Homo sapiens: one gene and its partner. The protein of the gene in region 1 purifies or fractionates together with the protein of each later gene. This does not show direct contact. Each region holds a gene or a part of one and is shown on either strand. Other genes may lie near its edges. The genes, in order: BMPR1B and PEG10.

Region 1 (3,830 bases):
TCGTATGAAACATTTTTTGGAAGAAGTTCATTTATATATGGCTGTTTATCTCAGTCTTAACATACTTCACAGAATGGTGAAATGATAAAATTTAAATAATTTTATTATGTTATCGAATTAAGAAGTTTTTACAACTTCTATATTTGAGGAGGAAGAATATAGTATCCATAAATATGCATAATTATGGAGCAGGAAATACATAATTTGCCTACAAAAATCACAAAAGTTTGATGACTGAAGCAAGGAGTGAATCTGGTCCATTGAGAATTACTAAGAAAAACATAATCAAACATAAATGCCACAGCATACAAAGATCATTTTCCAAATTGGTTCCAGAAATAGCTCCTAGGTTACCATGAAAAGCTAATTTAATTCAATTAAACAGTGTAGTATGGTTTTTCTCTTCAGAGAGGGTTTAAATATTTTCATTTGCTACAGATGTTAACGATAAGTATTTAAAGGAGTGATTGATTTAATCTTGAGATGCAGATTCAAAGCTGTTGAATAAGGACTTTTGAATGAAAACAACTTACTGACACATTTATTCTAACCACTAGAGCATCCACTATGTATGAAGTACACAAAGTAAAGCTCCTAACAAACAGCATGTTTGTTTACATTATGTCCTGTCATATAAATTCAATATTAATTCCTACTCAAAATTATAAGACAAGATAAAATATTTAGAGACAATGTTTGTTCCTACATATTAGTACATCATTAGAATCCTACCTCAAACATGCAATGGTGGGAAAAGATTTACAATTTAAAATTTAAATAGTAGTTAAGCTAAATTTATTTTGGAATAATTTAGGTTTCCCTGGATAATTTTTCCACGTTCATCTCAACATTATATAAATTCATTCACAGTCACTCAGGATGAGTAAGTAATGCCTCCAAAACAGCCTGGTCGTGGGTTCTTCTGAGTCCATCTGGCTTCTGGCTAGAAGACTGGAATGACTCATAAAAATGAAGCAACCTGAGGTCACCTACTCCAGGTCTTTTAAACAGAATTGCCAACTGCTTACCAGGTGGTTCCAATTTCCGAGAATACTTAAAATAAGGGAGAAACTCATTCTAGATACACCATTTTATTTTCATATTGTCTCTGGCCACAGAACTTGGTAAGGAAGGAAGCTCTTTTGAAATGTAGATTACCAATCATCTGAAGGCCAGAAATCACTGCATGTCTTGGATTGAGAATATTATATAAATAAAGTCAAGTGAAAAAGAAAGGAAGGACACAAAACCACAGTATATTATGCTCTCAATTCAGTAAAGAAAAAAAGACCCAAAATGCTAATGGTGGCTACTTCTGTGTGGTAAAAAATAATAATAATAATAAAATTAAAAAAAGAGTGACTGATTTTATTTGTTTGAGTTCCCTATGTTTCCCAAGTTCACTTCAATGAACATTCTTTACAATTAAAAAAATAACAATAAGTAACTTTTTAGAAAACATTATACACTGTAAATCTCATGCTCAGTGACCTGCAGAGGCCCAGTATATACTCACAGGTATAGGGCTGGAAGTCGTTTTCTGGGTAGTGAAGGAAAGCATTCATTTTTATCTTTAAAAAGAAAAAGAGTTTAAAAAAAAAAAAAAAAAAGACAGGAGCCGGTTTCCTGTTCTATGATGGGTGAGATAATTGTAGGAACAACTCCTGGCAGTAAGAATGATCCCTTCATTTCAGGAGATAATAAACTGATGAAAATGTTTAGCCAATTGTTTGTATCAATTTTTTTCCCATAGTTCTGAGGAACATAAATCCAATGATATACACAGGGAAAAATACAAGTCCCATGATCAAATACCACTTTTGGGGACTGTCAATATTAATGCATGTTAATACAACAAAGGCTCAGAAAGGGTTGCAATTTAAAAACATCAGAAATTGCCAGATTTCATTATTTACTTGCTTATCAAACGCTTGTGTTTACTATGTACCTATCACTGTTCTAAACACTTTAAAAATCAAAATTCTAATTCTCAAACATCCCTATGATGTAAATACTATTATTGTCATTGACATTTTACAGATGATGAAACAAAAACACAGAAGGTGCAGGAACTTGCCCAAGGTCTCACAACTCGGAAATGATACAGCCACGATTCAAACCTAGACAAACTCCCACAGTTAACCAGGAGGCTATGCTGCCATCCATAAGATCCCTCTTGGGCTGCACACCTAACATTCCACGAAACCACTGTTCCATGAAACACACTGGGAAAACAAATGCAATCAGGTAAAACATACTGTTATATGCAAATTCCTTATCTGGATTAGTCGAATAGCTCATATTACCTCAAACCCCAATTTTTCATTTACTATGTGACAAAGTAGAAATAACAGTTATGTTAGACCTCAAAAAAATTCTAGAATGTAATTATTAAACGAGAGATTTGATTAAATTATGTCCCCTCTCTGTTGTCATTTAATTTTATTAGGCATCACAATTCAAACAGATATATTCTCAAGTGCCTCTTAATTTCTAGAGGTTTTTGTGTGGCAAGATTATTGGCCCACTTTTCTTCTTCATGTCTATCAAACTTTTAAAATAGTCTACGAAATATAACGAGCAGGGAGATGAGGAACTCTGTGATCTTTAACTATCAGATTACACATTAAATATGTTTCAGAATGCATACATTGATGTAGATGGGGTTACTGATGCATGATTAAATTCAAAACGAAAGTCACAAAATGATACAGATGATCTTATTTTCATTTAAAAATACATAGTAATGCATAAGAAAATTCTTAAGGGATACACACACACATACATATATACAAAACTATTAATTTTAGGTAATAGTATAAAGCACTTTATTTTCTTAAGGTTTATATGAAATTTCTAATTTTCCTGCCAAGATTTATTGTTTGTGTCATCATTGGGAAAAGCTTTTAATATTCAAATATTAAGAGCCTGAATAATATATGCAGGTTAACAAGAGCCACTTAGACATGCCCTGCCTTTCAGTTGCTTGTGATCTTCAGTAAATGATAGTCCCCCCGTTACTCTCTACTGCTGCACCGTTTATTTTTTTAAATAAACCTAATCACAAACCTAAATTGTAACTATTATGTATAGTTGTTTATTTCCTGCCCCCTTCCCAGTCCTCCCAAATAGTGGCAAACATCCACCTTTTTGTATCCACAATGCCTAGTACAGTGCCTGGTCCTAAACAGTGAATCTATAAAGATGCACTGCATTTGTGAAAGAGTGAAGGAAACAAAGCACATGGATAGAAGATATACAGACTATCAAGTCACGAGATGTTCCAATAAACTGATTGACAGTATTTATATAAGAATTTAGGTTTCATGGACAGAAGCATATAATTTGGGGTGGAAAGCAGATGTCCAAAACAGGTAAGGGAGTACGACTGTTCTTATCAATCCAAGAAGACTCCAAAGAGCAGGCTTTCAGAAGCTGAATCAACAGAAAATAGGACTTTAATTGACACAGCTCCTGATAAGCTGAGGGAATTTATTTATAAACAGACAATGTAACAGGGTGTGGGCAGTAGTGGAAAAGAACCCCAAGGGTATTGCAGTAAATCCAGGTTAGCAAAAGCAGGGAAGTTATTCGAGATTACCAGAATCTGGAAAGAAAGAGTTATATAGAGAAGAATACCTTGGGAAGAGCAATGACTTTCAGTGCAGGAATACAGGCAGCCCAAACTGATCTCACAAAAAGGGAGCCAAGGAAATAAATACCCTCACTCCCCACCCTCCCTCTACTCTCTGCTGTGGCTCCCCAGTGACCTACGTTTTTTGGAAGTCAAAGTTGTTCATCCAGGTTATTTTCCCTGCAGACAGCATGAG
Region 2 (3,830 bases), on another chromosome or scaffold:
CTGAGAGAGCACTTTCTTTTCAGGCCTGAGATGTTTCATGTCACAAGGGTTTTTCCTGCTCCTGGGAGAACCAGTCGAGTTGCTGCTCCTTGAGAATTAACAGAACCATGGAAATGGAGTTTGAAGACGGTGAAGTTTCTAAGGGTGCAGCGAGAGGATCACGGAAGCCTTTCCACACTGCACCGATAATTTTGGCTTCCTTAATAAGGCCTCAGTCCTCCAGTGATTTAAAAAGAGGGTACCGAAACCGCAAGAAAAGTCATGTCCTCCTCCTCCTCGTCTCCCCCTCCATAAAGAAATCAGCATTTCCTGCGTTTGTATCAGCTTCTCTGTAAATGTTAAACAGCAAATTTGGCAGCCTATAATTTAGATGGTGATGGAGGTTTTGGCAGGTAAAACCCAGACTTCCAGGACTGGCTGGAAAGTAAACTTATTAATTATTTTAGTTAGATTGGCAGTCAAGGTGGAAAAATGAGAGATCATTTATTGGCAAATACTCTGTTGCTCTCAGAAAATGTTGAAGGTCTTTTGGTGCTTTAGGATGTGTGCCAGTCCAGAGTGGCCCTAACCTTCCATAGCCGTTTCAGAGAGGATGTGCCTCAGGTGGCCTGAAGATACAGTAGCCTAAAATTTAGCACACAGTCACTGATTGAGAAGCTGAACAGGAATAAATTTTGAGGGCAGAGATCCTGAAGGACATGACAGGTATTTACAGGGTACTGTAAGATGGAGGCGGCGGCGGTGGTGGTGGTGGAGGCGGCGGCTGTGGCGGCGGGTACTGTGGTACCGGAGGCTGGCGGTACCAGTGTGGATTCCAAGTGATCATCACAGGTACATATAGTGATCTTCCTTGTCCGTCTCGTCCCACTGGGTACCAGGCGAATCCTACTGGGTAGGTCGGGTACGCGGCATATGTGGGGTATGTTTGGTATCCAGGTATTTGAGGTACGAATTCAGTGTACGTTGCCAGGTGTGCTTGGTCTTCTAAATTTGGAATAGATAGGCGAGGATACTGATTCTGGATAGTAAAATTGTTTGGAGCTCGGCAATCATAAGAAACTTGCAGTTTCCACCCCCTCTTCACCTGGAGAACTTGGGCTCCATTAGGTGCAATCGTTGGAGTAATTAGCCCATCTTTTACATTTCTTGCCACAAAATCTCGAAGAGCTGCCATTTCAGGTTCGGACAGTGAATACACATGTCCACTGGGAATACTGTGTGCTCCAGGTATCATTTCTATGTGAGGGTCAACCAGGCGGTGATCTGGGTAGACGTGCTCATCTACTGGAGTGTACACATTCTGGACATAGTAATACCTCACTGGTTGGTAAACTCTGTATCCATCTACTGGATAATAGAGTGGCGGTTGTGGTGCTGGTGGTGGGAGCGATGGTGGTATTGGAGAATACATCCGGCAGTGGTAGCGGCAGTATTCAGAATCAAAGACGATAGATCGAGTGCTCCATGTGATATTGGGATCATGTGTGCTCAGCCAGCGAACCCCTAGGACGACAGGGAAGAATGGAGACTGAGTCACATCAAATGACAGCACCTCTCGGTGATCTCCCAGGTCAACTATCAGGTCGTGAGTTTCGTGGACAACTGGGCCCGATGCTATGGGGCGCCCATCAATTGCTTCCACAAGTATTGGCCAGTCCTTGATTCTTAGAGGAATTCCATTTTGAGCAACATATTCGTGATCAATGAAGTTGCCAGAAGCACCAGAATCGATCATGGCTCGGACGAACAGGGTGTGTCTGCCCGGAAGATGAATCTGGAGCATCACTTGCAAGTGTGGAGATGAGGCATCATCTTGTGGGGACCTTATTATTTCTGGCCCGGTCGCTGAAGGTCCCTCTACAGCGGGGCCGGGGAGTTTCCCGCCGGCGAAGACTTTGAGGCCTTGGCAGGACAATTGTCAGCGTAGTGACCTCCTGTTCCACAGTAGAGGCACAGGTTCAGCTTTCTGCGTCTTTCTTTTTCTTCCTGCGTCAGGCGCATGCGGGCACCTCCCACCGGCTCGGTTGGATCTACCTGGTGGTGGCTTGCAATGTGAGGCAACACCAGCGCCCGGGGTGGCGAGCGTGGCTTGCGAGCTGCAGCAGCCCTGGCCAGCCTTCTCTCAATGTGAATGCACTGCCCAATCAGAGCAGACAGCGACTTGGCGACCTCGAGGTGGGAGAGCTCCTCCTGAATGTGGTCGCTGAGGCCCTCGTGGTACTGGTCAATCAGCGCAGGCTCGTTCCAATCCAGGTCCTGGGCAATCATCTGGAAAGCATTGGAGTAGTCGATGACAGACCCCATGCCTTGGCGCAGGCGTCTGATCTTGCGTTTGGCAACCTCTCGCCTCTGAGGGTCTTCAAAGACATGCTTCATTTCCATCATGAAAGCTGGGTAGTTGTGCATCAGGTAGTGGGAGCGCTCCAGCTTTGCTGAGGCCCAACGGGCAGCACGGCCGGTCATCATGCTTGTCACGAAGCAGACACGGACACGATCAACTGAGAAATCCCTGGTGCTCTTTTCCATGAAGATCTGGCACTGGGCCATGAAAGGAGCCAGCATGTCTGGGTTGCCATCGAACTTCTCTGGGAGGTCTTCTGGGCACTCTTCCTCTATTGGAGGGGGTGGGGCAGCAGCTGCTGCAGCACCGCGGAGCTCGATGTCATCATCCTCATCCTCAGGGGTGGGTTCCACTTGCTCTCGAAGGGTGGTGTTCTCCTCTGTGAGCTTCTGCACCTGGCTCTGCAGGTTGTTGTTCTCCTCCGACTGCTTCATGACCTTCTCTCTTAAGTTGTTGATCTCTTCAGAGAGCTCGTCCCTTCTTCGTTCGGTCATGTTGGGGACACACGCACTCTTATGGCCGGTGTGCTTGGAGTTGTTGTTGTTGTTGTTGTTGGGGGGAGGGGGAGGAGGAGGAGGTGGGCAGTCGGGACCCAGGGTGACGGTTGGGGTGGGAGGAGACCTCCCAGCTGTAGCTTCACTTCTGTGGGGATGGAGGCCTGGATCCTGGCCCCCTCTTCCACTCCTTCTTTTTTTTGTTTTCAAAACCCGCTTATTTCTGTAAATAAAGATAAATGTATGTATAAATCCAACTTATACATTCAAAGCAGCAAAAGCAGACACAAAGGATTTGGTATTTAAATTATCCCTTGCTCTACGTGCTTACATTAATAATTAGTGAACAAAGAAAATAAACTCTCAAGAGAAAGTTAGTAATCAGCACCATATATAACAAAAAGCAAAGTACTTTTTGATGTTCAAATGACCTTGTCTTCCTCAAAGGCCACCTGTTCATTATGATTCAACAATACATTATCAACAGCATGCTTACCTTTATAAACTATAAAAGAATGTTGAAACCCTCTAAACAAGTAGTTTTGTATTCAAACACAGCAAGAAACTTCAAGGCAAACATGGATACAAAATCAATTATGCAAATTAAAGCCAAAATAATAACTTTTGTTATTAAAGAAGCCAGGCCAAAAATAGTTAATACTGCAACTAATAGAATCTCATTAAAGCAAGAAGGGAGTATTAAAATCACAATGCATGTATTCATCAGCCCTGTGGGCAGGAGGGTACTCTGGCCAACTGTCACAACCCTATTCCACTGCCACCGAGAAGGTAACTGGTTATCAAATCAAACAACCACCACCACAAAAACCACAGGACTGCCTAAATTACTTTTCTGACCATAATTTAAATCCCCAAAGAAAATTCTCTATGGGACAGAAATGGCACTAAGCAGCAATATGTGTATGTCAGTTTCCTTTGTCATTATGCAGTCATTCAAGAAATAATAATTGATGCCTCCTAGGAAAAGCTATAAA

The links.
Region 2: the proteins of BMPR1B (region 1) and PEG10 purify together in Homo sapiens (affinity purification with western blotting; one study listed by BioGRID). This does not show direct contact.

What each region holds. Positions count from the first base shown.
Region 1 is NC_000004.12:94,764,188-94,768,017, reverse strand, and holds part of BMPR1B (bone morphogenetic protein receptor type-1B isoform b precursor), read right to left. Parts: intron 1-3,830. UniProt on the Homo sapiens protein: On ligand binding, forms a receptor complex consisting of two type II and two type I transmembrane serine/threonine kinases.
Region 2 is NC_000007.14:94,662,562-94,666,391, reverse strand, and holds part of PEG10 (retrotransposon-derived protein PEG10), read right to left. Parts: intron 3,059-3,830; coding exon 1,858-3,058; coding exon of another isoform or gene 710-1,857; 3' UTR 1-709.